Homo sapiens: one gene and its partner. Changing the gene in region 2 together with the main gene of any one other region gives a genetic interaction. Each region holds a gene or a part of one and is shown on either strand. Other genes may lie near its edges.

Region 1 (10,825 bases), on a different chromosome or scaffold from region 2:
AAAAAAAAAGCCTGGGCTGGGCAACACAGCAAAACCCCATCTCCACCAAAAAAAAAAAAAAATTAGCTGGGCGAGGAGGCACATGCCTGTGGTCCTAACTACTCAGGAGGCTGAGGTGGGAGGATTGCCTGAGCCCAGGAGATGGAGGCTGTCGTGAGCTGTGGCTACACCACAGCACTCCAGCCTGGGCAACAGACTCTATCTCAAACAAAAAAGAAAGTTCAGACAGGAAAAAAGAGTGGTACTTTAACTAGACTAGATAAGGGGAAACTTTTCCAAGTCAGGATCTGACTGATGTTTTCATTCTTTCCCTTTTTATATCCCTGCCTTCCATCTGCTGAAATAGCAAATAATAATTCATTCACAATTTATCATGTATCAGACACTGTGCTATGAGCTTTATATAGATGATTTCACTTAATCTTTGAAACAATGCTATGTGATTGGTATTATCATCCCTGTTTAAAGATGAATGTGGGCTGGGCACACTGGCTCACACCTGTAATCTCAGCATTTTGGAAGGCCAAGGCAGGTGGATCACCTGAGGTCAGGAGTTCTTGACCAGCCTGAACAACATGGTGAAACCCCGTCTCTACTCAAAATATAAAAATTAGCCAGGTGTGGTGGTGCGCCTAAAATCCCAGCTACTCAGGAGGCTGAGACAGGAGAATCGCTTGAACCCAGGAGGCAGAGGTTGCAGTGAGCCAAGATTGTGCCACTGTACTCATTCCAGCCTGGCCAACAGAGTGAGACTCCATCTCAAAATAAAAAACAAACTTTTAAGATGACTTCAGCTCCAGCCACCATCTGAGTGCATGAGAGACTTCCAGTAAGACCTGCCTAGTTGAATCCAGGCAACCTGAAGAACCACAAGAAGGACTGTTGTTCCTTTAAGCCACAAAATTGAAGTGATCTGTTACGCAGCAATAGATAACCGGAACAATGAAGAAAAGCAGTATAAGAAAAAGTAACATGCCTGAAGCTGCCATGCCCACCCGGTTCCAAAGCCCACGCTCTTATCAACTGCACTGTGTCACTCTTTGCTCTCTACTGTTGCAAACGATGCCAAATAAAAAGAAGGACAGGAATACTCCACAGAATAACACACCCCTAAACACAGGGCATCACCTAGAAAACAAGTACAAAAATATACCTAGAAAATCCTGACAGACCCCTGTAATAATCTAGCATTCCCAGCCCCACTCTGACCCCAAGCTATGGATCCAATTTCACCATTACTCACTTTTCCTGATCATTCTACTTCTATAACTCTGTCTCTGTGATTTCCAGTTCTGGAATATTCTCTCCATTGTTAACTATTTTTAAATCATTTATTTAATGATCAGGATGTAAACCAGGGGGATAAAAGGTTACAATAATTCTTAGAGTACATTTTAAGGTAGAAGGAAGAAAGGGAGAATAAAGATGTCACCACTAAACCAAGTAACCGAAAACTACCAAAATGACCATCTAAAAGAACATACCAAACAATACTAAATATACTTTAAAAACAAAAGTTTACAAGAAGTAAATCATAAATGTACATTTTTTGTGTATTTTGTTTTGTTTTGATTTTTTTTTTCTTGTATTTTTTGGTTGAGATGGGGTTTCACCACATTGGCCAGGCTGGTCTCGAACTCCTGACCTCAAGTGATCAGCCAACCTCGGCGTCCCGAAGTGCTGGGATTACAGGCGTGAGCCACTGCACCCGCCCCATAAATGTAAATTTTATATGTATACACACATATACTTTTTTTTTTTTTTTTGCTCTGTTGCCCAGGCTGGAGTGCAGTAGTGCGATCTCAGCTCACTGCAACGCCCCCCTCCCAGGTTCAAGCGATTCCCCTGCCTCAGCCTCCCAAGTAGCTGGGATTACAGGCACCTGCCACCACGCCTGACTAATTTTTGTATTTTTAGTAGAGACGGGGTTTCACCATGTTGACCAGGCTGGTCTCGAACTCCTGACCTCAAGTGATCCACCCACCTCAGCCTCTCAAAGTGCTGGGATTACAGGCGTGAGCCACTGCACCCGGCCCACAAATGTAAATTTTATATATATATACGCATATATACATATTTATTTTCTTTTTTTTTGAGACGGAGTCTCTTGCTTTGTTGCCCAGGCTGCAGTACAGTGGCCCGATCTCAGCTCACTGCAAGCTCTGCCTCCCAGGTCCACGCCATTCTCCTGCCTCAGCCTCCCGAGTAGCTGGGACTACAGGTGCCCACCACCACGCCTGGCTAATTTTTTGTATTTTTAGTAGAGCCGGGGTTTCACCGTGTTAGCTGGGATGGTATTGATCTCCTGAACTCGTGATCTGCCCGCCTCGGCCTCCCAAAGTGTTGGCATTACAGGTGTGAGCCACTGCGCCCAGGCAGCATATGTACATATTTCTATATAGGTATACACATGCAGTGCTAACATTAGTCTTTTAAAAAGGGAGAAATACACATTTATATATTTATATATAATATATATAGAGAGAGTAAATTACTGAAAGTGATGCCTCTAGGTAGTGGGGTATGAAGAGTCTAAGAGGAAGGCCAGGCACAGTGGCTCGCGTCTGTAATTCCAACACTTTGGGAGGCTGAGGCGGGTGGATCGCTTGACGTCAGGAGTTTGAGACCAGCCTGGCCAACATGTTGAAACCCCGTCTCTACCAAAAAATACAAGTTAGCTGGGCGTGGTGGTGCACACCTGTAATCTCAGCTACTTGGGAGGCTGAGGTAGGAGAATCACTTGAACCCGGGAGGCAGAGGTTGCAGTGAGCCAAGATTGCACCACTGCACTCCAGCCAGGGTGACACAGAGAGACCCTGTCCAAAAAAAAAAAGAGTCTAAGAGAAAAAGAAGGTAGATAAATAAACCAAATGATCAAATCTAACTTCAGCAAAACTGCAACGAACTGACATCAGGCACTCTGGAAGGGCCACACTGACAGAGACACAACGTTGCCTCTCACATATTCCTGGTAAAAACATTTAAGCTGAAGCTAATCATGAGGCGAAAATCAGACAAATCCAAATTGAGCGATATTCTGCAAAACACTGGGCTGGATTCTTTAAAAATGTCATTTGGCCTACAGAGGACAGCCAAATAAAAATGAAAATATCATTGTCATGAAAGACACAAAAGGCAGGGACACCATATTAAAAGAGACCAAAGAGATATGACAACAGAATACAATTGGTGATTCTTGATTGGATAGAAAAAATATAAACAACTATAACACATGTTATTGGGATAAATGGAAAAACTGAAATATGGACTGTGTATCAGAGTATTGTATCATTGTTAAATTTTCTAAATGTGTTATTTGTACTGTGATGATGTAGGAGAATGTCCTTGTTCTTGGCAGATAACTGCTGAAAGAAGTGGTGAATTATTAGTAGTCTACAACTAACTCTTGAAAGGTCCAGTGAAAATAAATACATAAATGGGAGAGAGAAAACACCAGAGCGAAAGCGAGCACACAAAAATAAGGCAAAATGGTGCAGCTAAGTGAAGGACGGGTTTATAAATATTCAATGTACTGCTCTTGCAACTTTCCTGTACATCTGAAAATTTTCAAAACAAACAGATGGGAAGAAAAAAATGAATATAGTACAAAATATGTGCAGTATCATAGTCTGCACTGTAAGTAAAAGTGTAAAGTCTTTTGTAGACCTTGGATTCTAACTACAGCTTTGTAGTGCATTAATGAAAAAGGTAAACATTAAACAATATCCAACAAAATAAAATAAAAATAAAAATGCCTTGTAAAGGGTGAATGAGATTAATTATTTTAAATGTTATGCAATGTACACCATTGACAATTAGGATACAATGCAAATTTAACATTATAACTACTCCTAACATAATATTTTCACAGCAAAGGTCTGAATTTTTACTGCACCTCTGGTTCACAACCATAAACAATTATATCTGTACAGTAATAATAATTTTAAAAACATCATTCTAGCTGGTTGCACTTGGATTGTCAATAATCCACAAATCCCACTAAAGAAAATTTTTTACCCGTTACATTTTCTAGAATGACTACCTCATTTCCCAACTTTGAAGTAACAGCTTTTAACTAAAAGGTTGCTTCAAAACTACTATTAAAAAGTGGTTCCTATAAAACACTACTGCTTGACCCAAAAAATAAAATAAAGCACACAGCCCAGCTTTCCTCTCAATTGGTCACTAAACCAGTATCATGAAAAGGCAGGGAGCCACGCTGTAAGCGCTCCCCCGTTTTCTGCCGAATGTTCAGGAAAAGAGTGTCAGGTTCAAGCCAGCATTTAAAATAAAATAAAATGAATCACAGTCAACTCCCTAAACTCCAATGTAAGAACCACGCACCTGCACCAAAATATGCCTGAGCGGGAACTCGAGTCGGCTCTCCGAGACCCCAAAGTTCCCAACCTAGCCCCAACCCCTCAAGCTTCCCCCAGGGGCACCGGCTTCTCACAGCCGAGGGGGATTCGGGGCCCACATGCGGAGCCTCCCGGGCCTGTCGAGCCACGGCAGAAGGCGACGACGCCCGGCCCCACAGGCCCCTCAAGCTCCTCAAGCTCCCCCAGTCCCTCCCTCCCCCGCCACTCGCTCTCCAGTCCCTGCCCCTTTCCCCGGCCCCACTCACTCTTCATCTTGGATGCGGAAGCCGGTGACAACCCCTTGCCGACACTGGACGGAAAAGAAAGAAGCAGGAAGGTTGTCCCCCTGCTTTCCACTTCCCTGAGGCGGGGTCCCGCACTAGGATCTCCGTGGTGGTCCCTCGAAGGAGAGCGTTAGAGATCCCGCCGCCATGTTGTGTCCCTGTCACCCTAGCAACCGTCAGGCCCTGAACGCCATGAGCTGTCGCCTGCGCATGCGCAAGATGCCCCGCCCATGTACGCGTGCGCAGTGCAGCCCGTCCCCTCAGCCCGGTTGCTAAGCAGCCTTTCCTCCGCTTCCATGTAAATACTGTGCAAATCCCCGCCTTTGACACAGGCGACCTTCGCTCGGCTCGCTCTCCCTGCTGGCCTGGGAACTTAGCGATTTGGAACCCACTACGTGGACGATAGCCTTGAGCTTTAATTGGGCTTGGGAGCTTCTACAGGAATTTTTTTTTTTTTTTGAGACAGAGTGTCGCTCTGTTACCCAGGTTGGGGTGCAATGGCGTGATCTCGGCTCACTGCAACCTCCGCCTCCCGGCTTCAAGCGATTCTCCTGCCTCAGCCTCCCAAGTAGCTGGGATTACAGGCACCCACCACTACACCCGGCTAATGTTTTTGTATTTTTAGTAGAGACGGGGTTTCACCATGTTAGGCTGGTCTCGAACTCCTGACCTCAGGTGATCCGCCTGCCTCGGCCTCCCGAAGTGCTGGGATTACAGGCGTGAGCCACCACGCCCGGCCCAGTTTTTCTTTTTAATTCAACAAGCATTTGTTTTTGCCCCAGGAACTGTCGCAGGTATTGGGGATTAAAGGACAGTGTAGACGAGGTGACTGAGTTCTTGAAACTAACATTCTAGTGTAAAGATGAATGAATGTACACCGGAATGAACTATGTGCAGACACGGTGCCTAAGCAACACAGTGGCCTAGTTCTCTGGACCCTGACAAAACAATAAAATAACAAGCATACTATGTATGGGTATAGTATTTTATGAAGCTCATTAGATTAGCCTCATAATTATTCCATGAGATCAAAACCCTGTTTTTTCCTCCATTTTTTTTCTTTTACTAAAATACATCGTTTATTTTTAAAACAGATAAGTAGCCTTGCCAAAACGAAGCCTCAGAAAATTGGTTTAAGACTGAATTGGCCAGGTGTGGTGGCTCACACCTGTAATCCCAGCACTTTGGAAGGCCGAGGCAAGAGGATCGCTTGAGGCCAGAAATTCAAGACCAGCCTGGGCAACATAGAGAAACCCCACTTCCCTCTTAAAAAAAAAAAAAAAAAAACTCCGGGCGTGGTGGCTCACGCCTGTAATCCCAGCACTTTGGGAGGCCAAGGCGGGCAGATCACGAGGTCAGGAAATCGAGACCATCCTGGCTAACACGGTGAAACCCCATCTCTACTAAAAATACAAAAAAAATTAGCCGGGCGTAGTGGCGGGCGCTATAGTTCCAGCTACTCCGGGGGCTGAGGCAGGAGAATGGCGTGAACCCTGGAGGCGGAGCTTGCAGTGAGCCGAGATTGCACCACCTGCACTGCAGCCTGGGCGACAGAGCAAGAGACTCAAAAAAAAAAAAAAAAAAAAAAAAAAGCCGGGCACGGTGGCACATGCCTGTAAACCCAGCTATTCAGGAGAATAAGGCGGAGGTATCTTGAGACCAGGAGTTCTAGGCTCAGTGAGCTATGATAGCACCACTGCACTCTAGCCTGGGTGACAAAGCAAGACCTTGTCTCGAAAGAAAGAGAAAGCGGCCGGTCGCGGTGGCTCACACCTGCAATCCCAGCACGTTGGGCGGCCGAGGCAGGCAGATCACTTGAGTCCAGGAGTTCGAGACCAGCCTGGCCAACATGGGGGAAACCCCGTCTCTACTAAAAAAATACAAAACGGCTGGGCACAGTGGCTGATGCCTGTAATCCCAGCACTTTGGGAGGCCAAGGCGGGTGGATCCCCAGGTCAGGAGTTCAAGACTAGCCTGGCCAAGATGGTGAAACCCCATCTCTACTGAAAATAGAAAAATGAGCCGGGTGTGGTGGCAGGCACCTGTAATCCCAGCTACTCGGGAGGCTGAGGCAGAGAATTGCTTGAACCCGGGAGGCGGAGGTTGCAGTGAGCCGAGATTGCGCCACTGCACTCCAGCCTGGGCGACAGAGTGAGACTCCGTCTAAAAAAGCAAATACATAAATAAAATACAAAACAAGCCAGGCGTGGTGGCTCACACCTATAATCCCAGCACTTTGGGAGGCCGAGGAGGATGGACCAACTGAGGTCAGGAATTCGAGACCAGCTGGCCAACCAACATGGTGAAACCCTGTCACTACTAAAAATACAAAAATTAGCCAGGTGTGGTGATGCGCTCCTGTAATCCCAGCTACTCAGGAGGCTGAGGCGGGAGAATCACTTGAACCCAGGAGGTGGAGGCTACAGTGAGTCGAGATCCTGCCACTACACTCCAGTCTGGGCGACAGAGCAAGACTCCATCTCAAAAAATAATAAATAAATAAATGGTTACAATGGTGAATTTTATGTAAATTTTCTCTCAATAAAAAAGTTGAAAAAATAAATAGCGATTATTGCTGGTGTATTATTGTTGGTGGTGCTATCTTTGTTGGCTTTGAGAAGCCACATCTAATCTCTCCAGACCACTAGGATTTGATCTATCCCTTCTTCTCTTCTTGTGTTCTTTCTTATTTGGGGGCTTGCCCTTATGTCACATTTATATTTCTAACCCTGTCTCTTGCTTGTTAGTTTCTTCTAACCAGGTGGGTTCTAAGTTCCTTGGGCCCCTCATGTGTCTTTTCTCTACCCTGCAGGGCAGAGTGTATTAAATAAGTGAACAGGTGAATGCATTTAGCAAGTGAGAGCCCCATTGTTTCCCAATTCACCAGGTGCTGATGGATTTTCTTCTTCCCTTCATTGTGGACAAGTGGTTCTCAGAAGTGACGTTGTAGAGACCATGTTGGTCCTGATTGGGCAGATGATTTAGAGCAAGGTGCCCCCAGGGGGTAGACACAGTCTATGTGCTTACCTAGGTGAACAGGGGCAGCTGGACTTGCGGCCTCACCTGCCCCTCTGGCTGAGCACCCTTGTTCCAAGTTCATCTTAAGGTTGGGTGAGGGGACGAACTCCAGAATGTTCCATTCGATCAGGGATTTCCGCCCCATTATTTCTAAATCTGTAAGTCTGGAGTGGGGGATAGTTTGCAGCTCTCACAAAATTCCAGGTGATGCTGCACCAGTGGCCATATTTTGAAAACCACTGGCCTAGAGAATTCCTTATTCTTTCTTTAATTCTAAATGAAATAGGAAATGCTGCTTTGAAAAGAAGGAACAATTGCTGAGGAGCTTCTCTTCCTGTGGTAAACACGCTCAAACATCAGCGGAGGGGTCAACCTGTTCAGGCTTCAGCTGGGTGGCCTCAGCACCTGCCTAGCTGGGCCACTCCAGCCCTGAATGGACAGATAAGTAAGAAGTACCAGGCTGTGAACTCCTCCAGAGAGGGTCTTCACCCCAAGCCTCTCACCTGCCCAGCTCACCCAGAGCCAGGAGCCTGCTCAGCACATATTACATGCTCAGGAAACGCTTGTGAAATGGAACCACCACGCATCTCAGAGCTCTGCTTTTTTTTTTTATTAAGTTATTATTTTTAAATTTTTTTTTTTGAGACAGAGTCTTGCTCTGTCACGCAGGCTGGAGTACTGTGGCTTGATCTCGGCTCACTACAACCTCTGCCTCCCAGGTTCAAGCAATTCTCCTGTCTCAGCCTCCCAAGTAGCTGGGACTACAGGCACGTGCCACCACACCTGGCTAATTTTTGTATTTTTAGTAGAGATGGGGTTTCACCATATTGGTCAGGCTGGTCTCGAACTCCTGACCTCAGGTGATTCACCTGCCTCAGCCTCCCAAAGTGCTGGGATTACAGGCGTTAGCCACCGCGCCCAGTTCCAGAGCTCCGCTTTTAAAACTGTATGAACACTACCTAATTATAACCACTTGAGCTTTTTGAATCGTTCTAAAACTCCCTCAGACTGTTCATCCCATATTCTAGCATTAGTTTTTCCCTATTTGCCAATGTCAAGGGATTCAGCCATGTGGCTATGTTTAGCAGACAACCTATTTCCTTCTGCTGAGCATCTGAATTAAGGTTCAAACCAGGAAACAAGTCAGAAAAGCTAGGGATGACAGACATTTCAAACGTGTTAACACTGTTAAAGTGGGTAAAACGCAAATCTACCTAAAGATATTAGAAATTAGATTGATTTTGTAAAATAATAAACACATCTCAGGGAAAACTAAGCTTGAACAAGGATATTAAATAAGGAGGAGCAAAAACATTAGCCACTGAAATTAACATGAAGGATGGTAGTTAACCAAGCACTCTAGAAATTAGATCCTGGTCTAGTGTGGATGCAAAAATAGGTAAAATTCTGTCTACGAAGAAGTCTGTGTAGGTTTCTGAGAAAAAGGAACTCAAAGAAATACATTTAGAATTTTTTAAGTGTAAGAAAAGGTTTCCTGGCCAGGAATAGTGGCTCACACCTGTAATCCCAGCACTTTAGGAGGCCGAGGCAAGCGGATGGCTTGAGCTCAGGGGTTCGAGACCAGCCGAGGCAACATGGTGAAACCCCTTATCTACTAAAAATACAAAAAATTAGCTGGGCTTGGTGGCAGGTGCCTGCAGTCCCAGCTACTCAGAAGCCTAAAGTGGGAGAATCACCTGAGCCTGGGAAATCGAGGCTGCAATAAGCCATGTTTGCACCACTGACCTCCAGCCTGGGCAACAGGAGAGAGCCGTTGTCTCAAAAAATAACAATAATAATACAAAAAATACAAAAATTGGCCAGGCGCGGTGGCTCATGCCTGTAATCCCAGCACTTTGGGAGGCTGAGGCCGGCAGATCACAAGGTCAGGAGTTCAAGACCAGCCTGGCCAAGATGGTGAAACCCTGTCTCTACTAAAACTATAAAAAAATTAGCCAGGCGTGGTGGTGGGCACCTGTAATCCTGGCTACTCTGAGGCAGAGAATTGCTTGAACCCGGGAGGCGGAGGTTGCAGTGAGCCAAGATGGCACCACTGCACTCCAGCCTGGGCAACAGAGGGAGACACCGTCTCAAAAAAAAAAAAAAAAATGCAAAACTTAACTGGGCATGGTGGTGCATGCCTGTAGTCCCAGCTGCTCAGGAGGCTGAGGTGGGAGGACCATTTAAGCCTGGGAGGCAGAGGCTGCAGGAAACCGAGATGGTGACACTGCACTTCAGCCTGGGCGACAGAGCCAGACCCTTCCTTAAAAAAAAAAAAGAAAAGAAAAGAAGAAAAAAAAGGAAAGAAAACAAAAGAAGGCTGGGCGCGGTGGGTCACACCTGTAATCCCAGCACTTTGGGAGGCCAAGGAGGGCGGATCACCCGAGGTCGGGAATGCAACACCAGCCTGACCAACATGGAAAAACCTCGTCTCTACTAAAAATACAAACTTAACCGGGCATGGCGGCACATGCGTGTAATCCCAGCTACTCAGGAGGCTGAGGCAGGAGAATGGCTTGAACCCAGGAGGTGGAAGTTGCAGTGAGCCGAGATTACGCCATTGCACTCCAGCCTAGGCAACAAAAGCGACACTCCGTCTCAAAAAAAAAAAAAAGAAGAAAAAGAAAAAGGCTCACTGGATCGTTCACCTCCCGGGTTCAAGCCATTCTTTGCCTCAGCCTCCGGAGTAGCTGGGATTACAGGCGCCCACCACCACACCCAGCTAATTTTTGTATTTTTAGTAGAGACAGGGGTTTCACTGTGTTGGTCAGGTGGAGTCTTGAACTCCTGACCTTGTGATCTGCCCGCCTCTGCCTCCCAAAGTGCTGGGATTACAGGCATGAGCCACAGCACCTGGCCTTAAAATTCAGCTCTTAAAGTGGTAGGAGAGAGACTCATACTATGTAACTCCTGCCAAGTTGTAGTACTGCTGTTTTCTTGTTTTTGTAAAGCAGGGATAAAAATATCCACTGCAGACTGGGTGCAGTGGCTCACGTCTGTAATCCCAGCACTCTGGGAGGCTGAGGTGGGTGGATTGCCTGAGGTTCAAGAATGGCTTGAACCTGGGAGGTGGAGGTTCCGGTGAGCCTTTTTCTTTCTTTTTTTTTTTTTTTTTGAGACGGAGTTTTTTCAGACGAAGTTCAAGACCAGCCTGGCCAACATGGT
Region 2 (10,607 bases):
AATTGACTTGGAAGTTGTATCCTAAAATTGCTGTGGATGTCTTAATCAGAAATGTATCCAAATTTCTTTCAATAAAATGTATTTTTGTTCCTCTTCCAAGTCTTAGGATAAAACAGATGACTGGGAAGGATGGGCCATGTTTATCCTGGGGCACTGTGATTTGAGAGGTGTGGACATAAAGGCCCATTTAGAGCAGCAACATCTCATTTACTGGGTACTGGGCAAAGTCAACATTTACTGCATGATCTTTCAGGGAAGAAAAAGCTAAACTCAATGTTTGGCAGTTATAAGAGGCCATTCAAAAAGTCTATCTGGTCATTGATTTTGCCAATTTGTTTACTTATAGCTTGAGACTTCTGCAAAATTTTTCTTCCCAACTACTTAAAAGACTGAACTCAGTTACGAGGTTTACACCCCAAGCAATTGAAACCTTTTTTCCCCTACAGAAAGTTTCAGAATAAATGCATGTGTTTACTCAATACTCACCATAACCTTGTCCTTCACATTTCTGACTTTACTGTCAAGCTCTTTCTGTTTGTCTAACATCACTGTGCTCTGAATATTCCCCGACTGAGCCTGTAATGGGAAGGGCATGATTATAGCCATCGTTTTCTTCAGGGTGTGTACTTGCTGGTTACACTCCAAAGTCAAGTCCCCACTTGCCTTCCAGATCTTCTGACATGTACTACAGGCTTCCTGCTTATGTGTCAATATGAAATTTTTCCCAAGGCCCTGGAAAATGCTGGCAAACTGTTAACAAGGTTACAAAAAAACTAGGCTCAATTCATGTCTAAAATAAACAGTATTTCTGGGAGTTTCCATTAATTCATACAGTTGCATGGTACCACGCTGGAATTTAGTTCACGGTTTCTCAGATACTATACACAAGATTACTCTCATTAACTCAGTCCTTATTTATCTTAAAGCTTTCTGATTCAAAGTGTGGTCCTCAGACCAGCAGCATCTCACCACCTAGGATCTTGTTGGAAAATCTCAAGGGCTAATATGATTAGGCAATCAGAAAACCCTATTTTAACACAATTCCGGGTGATCCAGAGGTATACTGAAATATGAAATCACTCCATTAAGGCCATCAATGAAAATCTGCTACTATAAAGTCAATAATGAATATAAACCCAGACTTGCCTGGGAGTATTCAGTCCTATTTTTGATAATCAGAACACTCAGAAGTGACAGGGTCTCTACTTGCTTCATACACCAGATGTACCCTGCACATACTAGGTACTAAGTAAATGTCAGGCAATGCTCTAGGCTCGGGTGTTAGAGTGGTAACCAGTGATCCCTGTTCTCATAGAGATTAAATTCTAGAAAGATGTTATTTTTTTAGAGTTAAATCCCCCACACAGCAAAAACTGTGCTTGTCAACCTTTCTTACACAGTGCCCTATACAGCACAGATTCTACGGGGGTGTTTTTATATGTGCAATTGTATCATCTTTTCTTCATGTCTGGAATTTTCCTTATATTAGAAAGCCTTTCCCTATTGACATTACATCATTCACTCATTTCCCTAGCACTTGCAAGGTTTCCTTTTTTTCTTTTTAACTTTTAGATCGCTGATATATTTGTTTATTCTCATGATCAGAGTGAAGTATGGGTCCACTTTTTGCTTTCACTTTTTTTCCAGTTAGCTTTCCATTTGTCTTAACAGCATTTACTGAAAAGTCCATTATTTTCCCCAGTGCTCTGAGCTGCCAACTTTATCACATGAATTTCCATATGCACACGGGTTTCCTTCTAGATTTTTCTCTTCTTTCCCATTGGCCTTTTTATTCATAAGCCTGAACCCTTGAAGGATGTTTGACTATAGAGGATTTATAGTCTGTCTAGTAGGGCCAGTCCCATTTCATTGCTCTACTTGTTCAGAAGTTGCCTCGCTACTCTTGCATGTTTATTTTTCATAAATTTCAGAACAAATTTGTGTAGCTCCAGAAAACAACTTGTTGGTATTTTTATTGGAATAACATTAAAATTACAAGTTAACTCAGGGAGAGCTAACATCTTTATGATGTTGTTTTTAATTCTTATGCTTCTAATGGTTTTCTCTTGTCTAATTGCATTGGCCAATACCACCAATACGATGCTAAATAGCAGTGGAAACACAGCATCCTTGCTGTGTTTCTGACTTACTGGAGTTTTCCCAGTTAGGTAAGATACTGTCTCTAGAATGGAGATATATATATTTTTTTGTGTTAAAGAGGTACCCATCAATTCCTATCTTATTCAATGTTTTTATGAGGAATGAGTATTGAATTCTGTTAGATCTTTTCAGCTTCTGTGGAAGGAAGTAAATGCTTTTTTCTCCTTGTAGCTATTAATTTAGTGAATTGCATTAATAGGTTGCCCAGTCATGGACTACCCTTGTAACCTATAATAAATCATATTTGGTCATGTCCTTTCTTAATGTAGTATTTAATTCTGATCCCTAATATCTTATTGAGGACTTTTATATTGATACTCATAAGTAAAATTGGTCCATAATTTTTTGTTTTATCTTTATCAGGCATACGTCATCAAAGTTATTCTCTCTTCATAGGAAGTTTTCCTTCATGTTACATATTCTCCAACAGCAGAAGTTCAAAGCATGTGAATTGTATCAGCTGTAAAGTGTGTATTAGAAATACATGAATGTTACTGGTATCCTCTGTAAGTCCAAGGTGCCACATATCACTCAGTGACAAAAGGGGTTTCTCTGGGCGGTTGGAATAAGTTGTCACTTTGAGGAGTTCCATACAGCTTTCTGCCTGTGCAGGGAAATCTTTGCTGTTGTCTAATTCTGACATGGTTTGGATCTGTGTCCCCACCCAAATCTCATGAATTGTAATCCCCATTGTTGGAGGTGGGGCCTGGTGGAAGGTGACTGGATCACGGGGACAGTTTCTCATGAATAGTTTAGCACCATCCTCTTGGTACTATCCTTGTGATCACGAGTTCTCACAAGATCTGGTTAAGTGTGGAGCACCTCTCCCCTGCTTCCTCCTGCTCTGGCCATGTGATATGTGTGCTTCCCCTTCACCTGCTGCTATGACTGTAAGTTTCCTGAGGCCTCCCCAGAAACTGAGCAGATGCCAGCACCATGCTTCCTGTAACAGCCTGCAGAACCATAAGTCAATTAAACCTCTTTTCTTATAAATTACCCAGTCTCAGGTATTTCTTTATAGCCATGCAAGAACAGACTAATACAACTTCTAAGCCAGCAGGATGTGGGCACGGTGTCCTGTGGGCTTTGTAACAGCTGGGACACTACACCTAGAGAGAGGGACCAGGCCACTGGAGAATTCTGACTTCCCAGGCCTCCTCCCAAATGACCAAGGCTCGGTTTAGAGAACAGGGATATAAACAATGGCTGTAAAACAGCAGCTACATCCCCAGCTTCTACATCCCCTTTCTACTGACTTGCTGGGAGATGCTTGGTGGAAAAACCTGGTGACTGTGGCAGGGCCTAAGAAATCTCCTGCTTCCAACTTGGGCAGTAGTCCCTCCAAGTCACTCAAACCCTTGGTGCTCTCTTACCCCTTCCACTCATCCCTCCCTGCTTCCCTCCACCCTGCCCCCATCTGCTAAGCAGATGCTTGGCTGCTCCTGTACACTTTAGTACTGATACCACTTTCACAGTGAGTCCTTAACTTTTTAACTTTCTAAGAAACCAGGAGTACTGAAACCACGGGAATTTCAAACACTGAAGTTGGAAGGGACTTCGGCTGTCATTGACTCTTACTTTCTCGTTTCACTACTGTACCTCTAGAGACCTTGTTTGGATGGGAACTTGGTTACTCCAGACCCCAGAGCAAAGAAAAGTCTTCTGCTCAGGAAGGGGGTCCTTTCCAATGGAGTGAGCAGTTGTCCAAGTAAGGGAATAGGCACTCCATGGGTGTGAGAAGTTCCAGCCAGAAAGCCCTCATATCCCATCCCACAGATTAGAAAACTGAAAAGTGACTTCTCCAGTGAACTAGTTTTAGAGTTGGACAATACTGGGTTTAAATTCCAAACCTACTTCTCATTAGCTCTGTGGCTCTGAGTGAAGTACCTGACCTCTAAACCTTAGTTTTCTCATCTTTAAAATGGGGATAAGAATACCTAACTTCAGTGATAGTTTCGAAAGTATTTACTCAAATGAAATAATGTTTATAAAGTGCTTAGCACAGGGCCTGAAACATGATAAGCACTCAGCATATGGTAACCATTAGTCCTTAAGAACACAAAGATGGAACAGCAAAGGAAGCTTAGAATCCACCTCATGTCTTTCCCTCCCACCTGAAAGAAATTCTCCCCATCCCTTCAGACCCTATGGACCTAAATTTTTGTCTAGACATGCAACTAGCTTTTTCACCACAAAGAAAAAAAGAAAGAAAAAAACTTAGTGTGCTGTAAGACAGCACACGAAACATTTATAGTCTACTACAGTGTGTATAGCATAATATTCTCTTAAATGTATTTTCTAAAAGCTCTTATATTAAAAAACAATGGGAACAATAATTTCCCATCTCGGCATGTCTATAGAATTTTGTGGTCTCTAAATGATCTGAACTAACTCGGAATTTTGCATGTTTTTAACTTGTTGAATCTGTTGAATCCCCATGTACCTATCACAGTTTCAACAATTAGCATTCATGGATGGCCTTGTTTCATCCCTATTCTCCTTACTCTTCTAGTCCCCAAATGGGATTATTTGAAGCAAATACCAGACATCACACCATTCCATACACATATACTTTAGCATGAATAGAATATACACAGTCATGTACCACATAACAATGGTTCAGTCAACGATGGACCGCGTATATGACAGTGGCCCCATAAGATTAGAATGGAGCTTTATGGGGGTACCACCTTTTATCTTTTACACACTATCTGTACTGTACCTTTTCTATGTTTAGATACACAAATAACATTGTGTTACAATTGCCCATAGCGTTCAGTACAACTTCATATTGTACAGGTTTGTAGCCTAGGAGCAATAGGCTTTACCATATAGTGTAGGTGTATGGTAGGTTATACCACCTGGGTTTGTGTAAGTGCACTCTATAATGTTTGCACAAAAACGCGATCACCTAGTGGTGCATTTCTCAGAATGTATCTGTGTCATTAAGTGATGCATGTCTGTATTAATAAAATAAAGTTACTTCAACAAGGGGGGAAATGGTGAAGAAATGTTTCTGACCTACCTAGCCAATAGTTGGCTGGATAACTTTGGAAAGGAGGCACCTATTGTGCCTTTTCCCTTTCCCTGACATCCCCAGACACCCAGAAACTTCCCTCACACCCCAAGAAGGCTTTGCAAAGGTGTTCACGGACTCAGGTGTCCTCTGAGAGGCTCAAAACAATCCCCAGATTACCTACATTTTTAATGGGGAGGGAGCTCAAAAGCTGGTAAACCTTCAAGATCCAAAGCCAGGGGATGAGGTTCATGTGGGAGAGCAGGGGTCACCTACTCTGCTGCCAATGCCATCTCTGGGCCAAGGGGCCAAATGTGAGGATGACATGCTTGCAGCTGGGGGAAACAGGTTGTCCTTCTGCCCATCTTTGCTCCTGGCTGTCCTTTCAAGTCTATTAGAAATACAGAGGAGGCCCACGCATACTACTTTTAGGATGGAAGCCCCATATAATCAAAACTGCCGGCTGAAAATCTCCCAGGTATATGCCAGGTTAGAGACAGGCACACCTCTTTCAGAGGAGACAACCTGGCCAGCTTCTCCTCCAGCGTTGATATACACCTTTGTTCCCTAGGCTGGGTACCAGATGAGCTAGCCAGCTTGAGTTTAGAATAAGCAATATGTATCTTTACATGCTCAGTTCAGCAAGATGCTATCAGTGTGACAAGAAGATGGGAACTATACGCCTAGGGAAGTGACAGGATTACAAGGACTGGGACAAATGCTCAGGCAGTGTGTGGAGAATGGCATCCTCCACCACACCTAAACTCCCTCCCTCTCCACTGTCACACAGTTCACTTCGGTAGTTATTTGTTGGTGAAATGCACACAGGATGCATACTGTGTCCTCTGGCATCCATATAGCAATGGGCTCCTCCAGAACAATCCATAACATGGTGGCTTCACACTGCCTGCCTGTTGGCTTGTTGTCACCACCCCAGTGCTCAAGAAAGGAATACTAAATGCCATAGCAAATTCAAAACTCTGCTGAACCCTGACAACTAGGAAGGTTTGTATTAGGATTAATAAAACAATGATCAAAAATCTTGATACTAGTACAACTCTGACTCATTTACTGTTTGATGCCTTGAATATTTAATAGGTATCTTGATGTTGCTCAAAACAAAGCCCTTGATTTTCCCATCAGCCTCCTTTTCTCTCCACAAACCTATTGAGTCCTACAAAACTCCTGCCCCTGCCCCCTCCTTGCCTTCCCAGCTCCGTGTACAGCATTACCATTTTTCAAGGGGTTCTAGTAGCTGCTGTAGAGCCATCCTTGACTTTCTGCTCTCACTCCTGCATCTAATCCTTCAACATAAGGATCCTTCTATATTGGTATCACATCCAAAGCATAACCTGAATCTGTCCACCTCTTCCTACCTCCACTGATTCTACTGAGCGCAAGCTTCCACTGCCTCTACCTTGGACAGCTGCAAGAACCCTCTATCTGCCTGCTTCCATTCCTGTGCCAGCAACTCAGAGGCCTTTCCTGACCCTGATCTAAAGGAACAACCCCACTCCCAGCCACTCCATGAATTCAGCATGTTATCTTCTCAGCACTTTATGCTACCCAGAAGTATCTTGTTTATATGTTCTCTCTCCTCGTTAGAACTTAATTCCATTAGATTAGGATCTTTCTTAAAGCCTGGTTCTATAAAATCTCTAAATCTGATTCTCCCACTTCTTGGGGCTATAAAATTAGAGAGATATTCATCATTGCTTTGACATGGGCCCTAATAGTATTTGATGAATGAATACATTTTTATTTTATTACAGTTTATGTGTTCAATGAGAAAAAAGTACCTGATTAAATCTCTGGGCGTTTTCCAGAATTTTCCTTTCTTCCTTCAGACAGCTGTAAATGATCATAGACATCTGGATTGGGTCTTCCTGAAAATTATCCTAGATTTGAGTGGTTAGAACAAAAATAAATTAAAATGCAGAATGTTTACTTTATTGTGTATTGTAAGTTGATATGAATTTGTTTATATTCTCCGGGAAACCTCATCTCTCATCTATTAAATTCTATATAAGCTATGTTTGTTAAAATCAAAATATTTCTTTCACGAATTATGACAAAAATTGCTTTAACTTTCTAAGTGCAGGTACCTAACGTACTTTTTGATTTAAAAACAAGTATTTTCACATATGGTTCACATAATATTTTTACTTTAATATCTTTCCATATTTCTTAAGGCCAATTATCTTTGGTTAGGATCCCGAGACAATGCAAATGATATAAAAACTATACATGACATTCCTCAATGAATGCATCTGTTGGTCTAAGCTTTGAACTAGACCAAAGATATTCATCTAGGGTTTTCTGTTGCCATTGTCAAAGCTAGTTTGCAAAACACTACCAATAGCAATAATGGCTCTTTATACAGGTACATTCATGCAAGGTCTGTATGAGAACAAATTTCTGTAAAGTTAATTTGATTTCCCCACTCGTAAATAAAATCATAAATACATTCACAAAGGAAAAAAAACAACTTCCAATTACCTAAGCTGAAAAGTTCAGTTGTATTGTATGAAAGAAGAAAATGATAGCTTTCACCTCCATTAAAACAGAAAAGTTCTGTTATTACACAACATAAATATGATAGCCACCCCAAGGGCATGCTGGGAGTACATCTGAAGAACCCCTAAAACTCTATAGCATGTTCTCTCATGTCTGGATCTTTCTTTGACTTTCTCTTCCAGGAGAGGCCAACTCCACCAGAAGCAAGGCAAGGTGGAGTCTAGTTCCTGAAGTCACCTGACTTCCTTAGGTGAAAGTCAAACCTTTCCTGTTTTATTCCTCATTTGCATAGCAAGGACCTGAACCTAACCACTAATGTTCCCTGGAGCTTTAATGTATTACTATAGATCATTGCTCTTAAAATGTAGCCCCTTTTCTTTGGTTTAAATATTGACAATTTTTAGTAAAACAAAATTATAGCATCACATTTTTCTCAGGATTACTGATACCTAAGAGGTGATACATTTAACCCTAAAAATTCCTTCTGTGTTTATAAAATAAATTGGTATCTTATTTTACTTATGCTATATTTACTGATGCTGTAGAAAACATAAATGGAGTTAGTCTCTATTACTTCTCTAAATACCAATAAGTGTGTGCTCAATTGTATTTGCTGAATGAAGAAAACTGCCTTCCATAAACATGAGAACATTTCAACTAAAATACAAAAACCAGGTCATACCTGAAGATTACGCTTGCTTTTCCTTATGTTATGCTGTAGCAAGAAGTTATTCTCCAAAGAAAAGCGACTATATTGATCATCCAGCTGTGACAGGAGGTCATGAAAACGGATGGTGGCAAATGAAACATCATTGGCAGCGTGCTCCCTAGGAGATTTAACATTTACACATTTCATTCTAGAACTAAATGTCTATGTAAAACAGACAAAACAAATGTTGGTTTCCTTATTGAAATTATTAAAAATAATTTAAGTATTTTCTTAGGTTTATTTTCTTCTTTTGAAACTGACATTGCTTTTAGCAGCAGTTTATGTGGTATTTCTCTTATGTGCAATTAGCACAAAAAATTCTAAACTCTAAGAGATTGTGCATGACAGTGTTCATGGTGACTATCTCTGAAGGGGGAAAAGTCAACAGGGGACCCTTCACTTTCTATGTCAAATACTTTCAGGACGTTTTTAAATTAGCAAATAATAAATTTTAAAGTAGAACACCTATCAGTTAAAAAAAATCCCCTTAATTTTACTACCTTCTTCATATTTCTAATCAATGTTTAACCATTAATTTGGCTTTATTTCTTTTAAATTACTTCTTTCTATAGTCTGGATCCTAAGTTGGAAAATAATCGGTGTCAGTATTCCGTAACTTGTCCAAAGCATTTAGGAATATCTATCATAAATTAAATTTGGCAAAACTGTATAAAAGTGCTTAATGACTAATATACTTAACTTTGTTGAGACACTTTTTGGCTCAACTTTGTTGAGTCATTTTTTAAATCAACAAACTTTTCTACAACAAATAATTCCAGTGGCCATTGATGGAATTCATCTTCCAGTAAACATGGCCCCAAGTCACTTAATCAACCAGTACTTTTAAGGTGTAAACTTCTTCTTCTGTCTAGTGAATTTTCCTTACCAGTCTTGCTTTTCTAACCACTGTGCCAGGTACTGTCTGATTTCCATGGGAAAACTGTCATCATAAAGCTGGTGAACCTGCTCCAGGAATTTTGAGTCAAGCTGCTGAAGTTCGTACCACTGAGACATCCTATAGGGAAAAAGAATATACATTCTTTCTATGTATATGGAAACCATAGCTCCAAAGAAAGCCTTCCTAGCATCAGGTTGTACTCTTAAATATCTTGCTTAATCCAAAACATAGTTTGTCCCAGGAATATTTTATTTAAATGGCATTTATAGTCTAAAGCCTGTTTTTAATTGAGTTTGGGGATGAACTTTTTTTCTCCTCCACGAAACACATCTTCATGTCTTTGCTTATTGTCAACATATCAGGGCAGCCTTCTCTGGCCTCTTTTATTTAAACTGCAACCACCTCCCACCCTGGAAACATGCTCTCTCTTTTCCCTGGTTTATTTTTCTTCATAGTACTTACACCACCATCTGACCTACCACATATTTTATTTTCATTATTGTCTGTTTTCACCACTTGAAGGGATGGATGTTGGTGGAGGATTCTGTGCACTGGTGTATCCCTAGAACAATGTCAACCACATAGTAGGTATCCAATAAATATGCCTTTAAAATGAGTTTGTGATTTTATCAAATAAATACATGAAAAACATTATTTTAATTAGACTTGCTTTAAGACAAATCACAAGACTCTCCCAAAATTGCTCTCCTACAAATCACAGTACATTTGTAATTTAACTCAAATATTTTCAAACTTCTGTTTTATATTTATGATTCATATGGTAAAATTCATTATTTTTCTTATACACATTTAAAAAGATATATTTTCTTCTTTGCCTACTACAAACAATAAATCTGGCATAAAGAAGTAATGATTTTTAAAGATTAAAACATCATTAAATGTAATTTAAAAGGATAAAGTAACACTTAGCTTTTTGGATAACTGTTAAGTCCATTTTTACATAGTGATCCTAAAGATTCAAAATCACAACAAAAACTTGATATAAGCAAGTCCTAAAATTCATTAGGAAAACGGAGAGTCTCCCATGACCATCATGTAACTTAGGATTTATATCAGCACACAGGTGGCAATATGCAGAGCAGACACAAGTGAATCTTGTCCTGCCAGACCTCTGGGGAAGGAGTCTGGATTTTCAAGTAGGGCATGGAAGAGTGTGTATGCATACTTGTAGCCGAGCACATGTATGCAGGCATGAGGTCACGCCTACTCCACAAATGTCCTTCCAAAGGAGTGTGAGGAAATGTCTGGCCTATAAAGCTAGTTATCCTCATATATACCAGTAGAAA

The links.
Region 1: changes in STAT1 (region 2) and MOK together harm fitness more than expected from each alone (negative genetic interaction), as found in Homo sapiens cells (one study listed by BioGRID).

The regions. Positions count from the first base shown.
Region 1 is NC_000014.9:102,300,338-102,311,162, forward strand, and holds the start of MOK (MAPK/MAK/MRK overlapping kinase), read right to left. Parts: upstream 4,828-10,825; 5' UTR 4,632-4,827; coding exon 4,625-4,631; intron 1-4,624. UniProt on the Homo sapiens protein: Able to phosphorylate several exogenous substrates and to undergo autophosphorylation. Negatively regulates cilium length in a cAMP and mTORC1 signaling-dependent manner.
Region 2 is NC_000002.12:191,000,588-191,011,194, forward strand, and holds part of STAT1 (signal transducer and activator of transcription 1-alpha/beta), read right to left. Parts: intron 9,863-10,607; exon of another isoform or gene 9,785-9,862; coding exon of another isoform or gene 9,780-9,784; intron 9,418-9,779; coding exon of another isoform or gene 9,417-9,417; coding exon 9,289-9,416; intron 8,557-9,288; coding exon of another isoform or gene 8,521-8,556; coding exon 8,376-8,520; intron 7,075-8,375; coding exon 6,976-7,074; intron 577-6,975; coding exon 487-576; intron 1-486. UniProt on the Homo sapiens protein: Signal transducer and transcription activator that mediates cellular responses to interferons (IFNs), cytokine KITLG/SCF and other cytokines and other growth factors.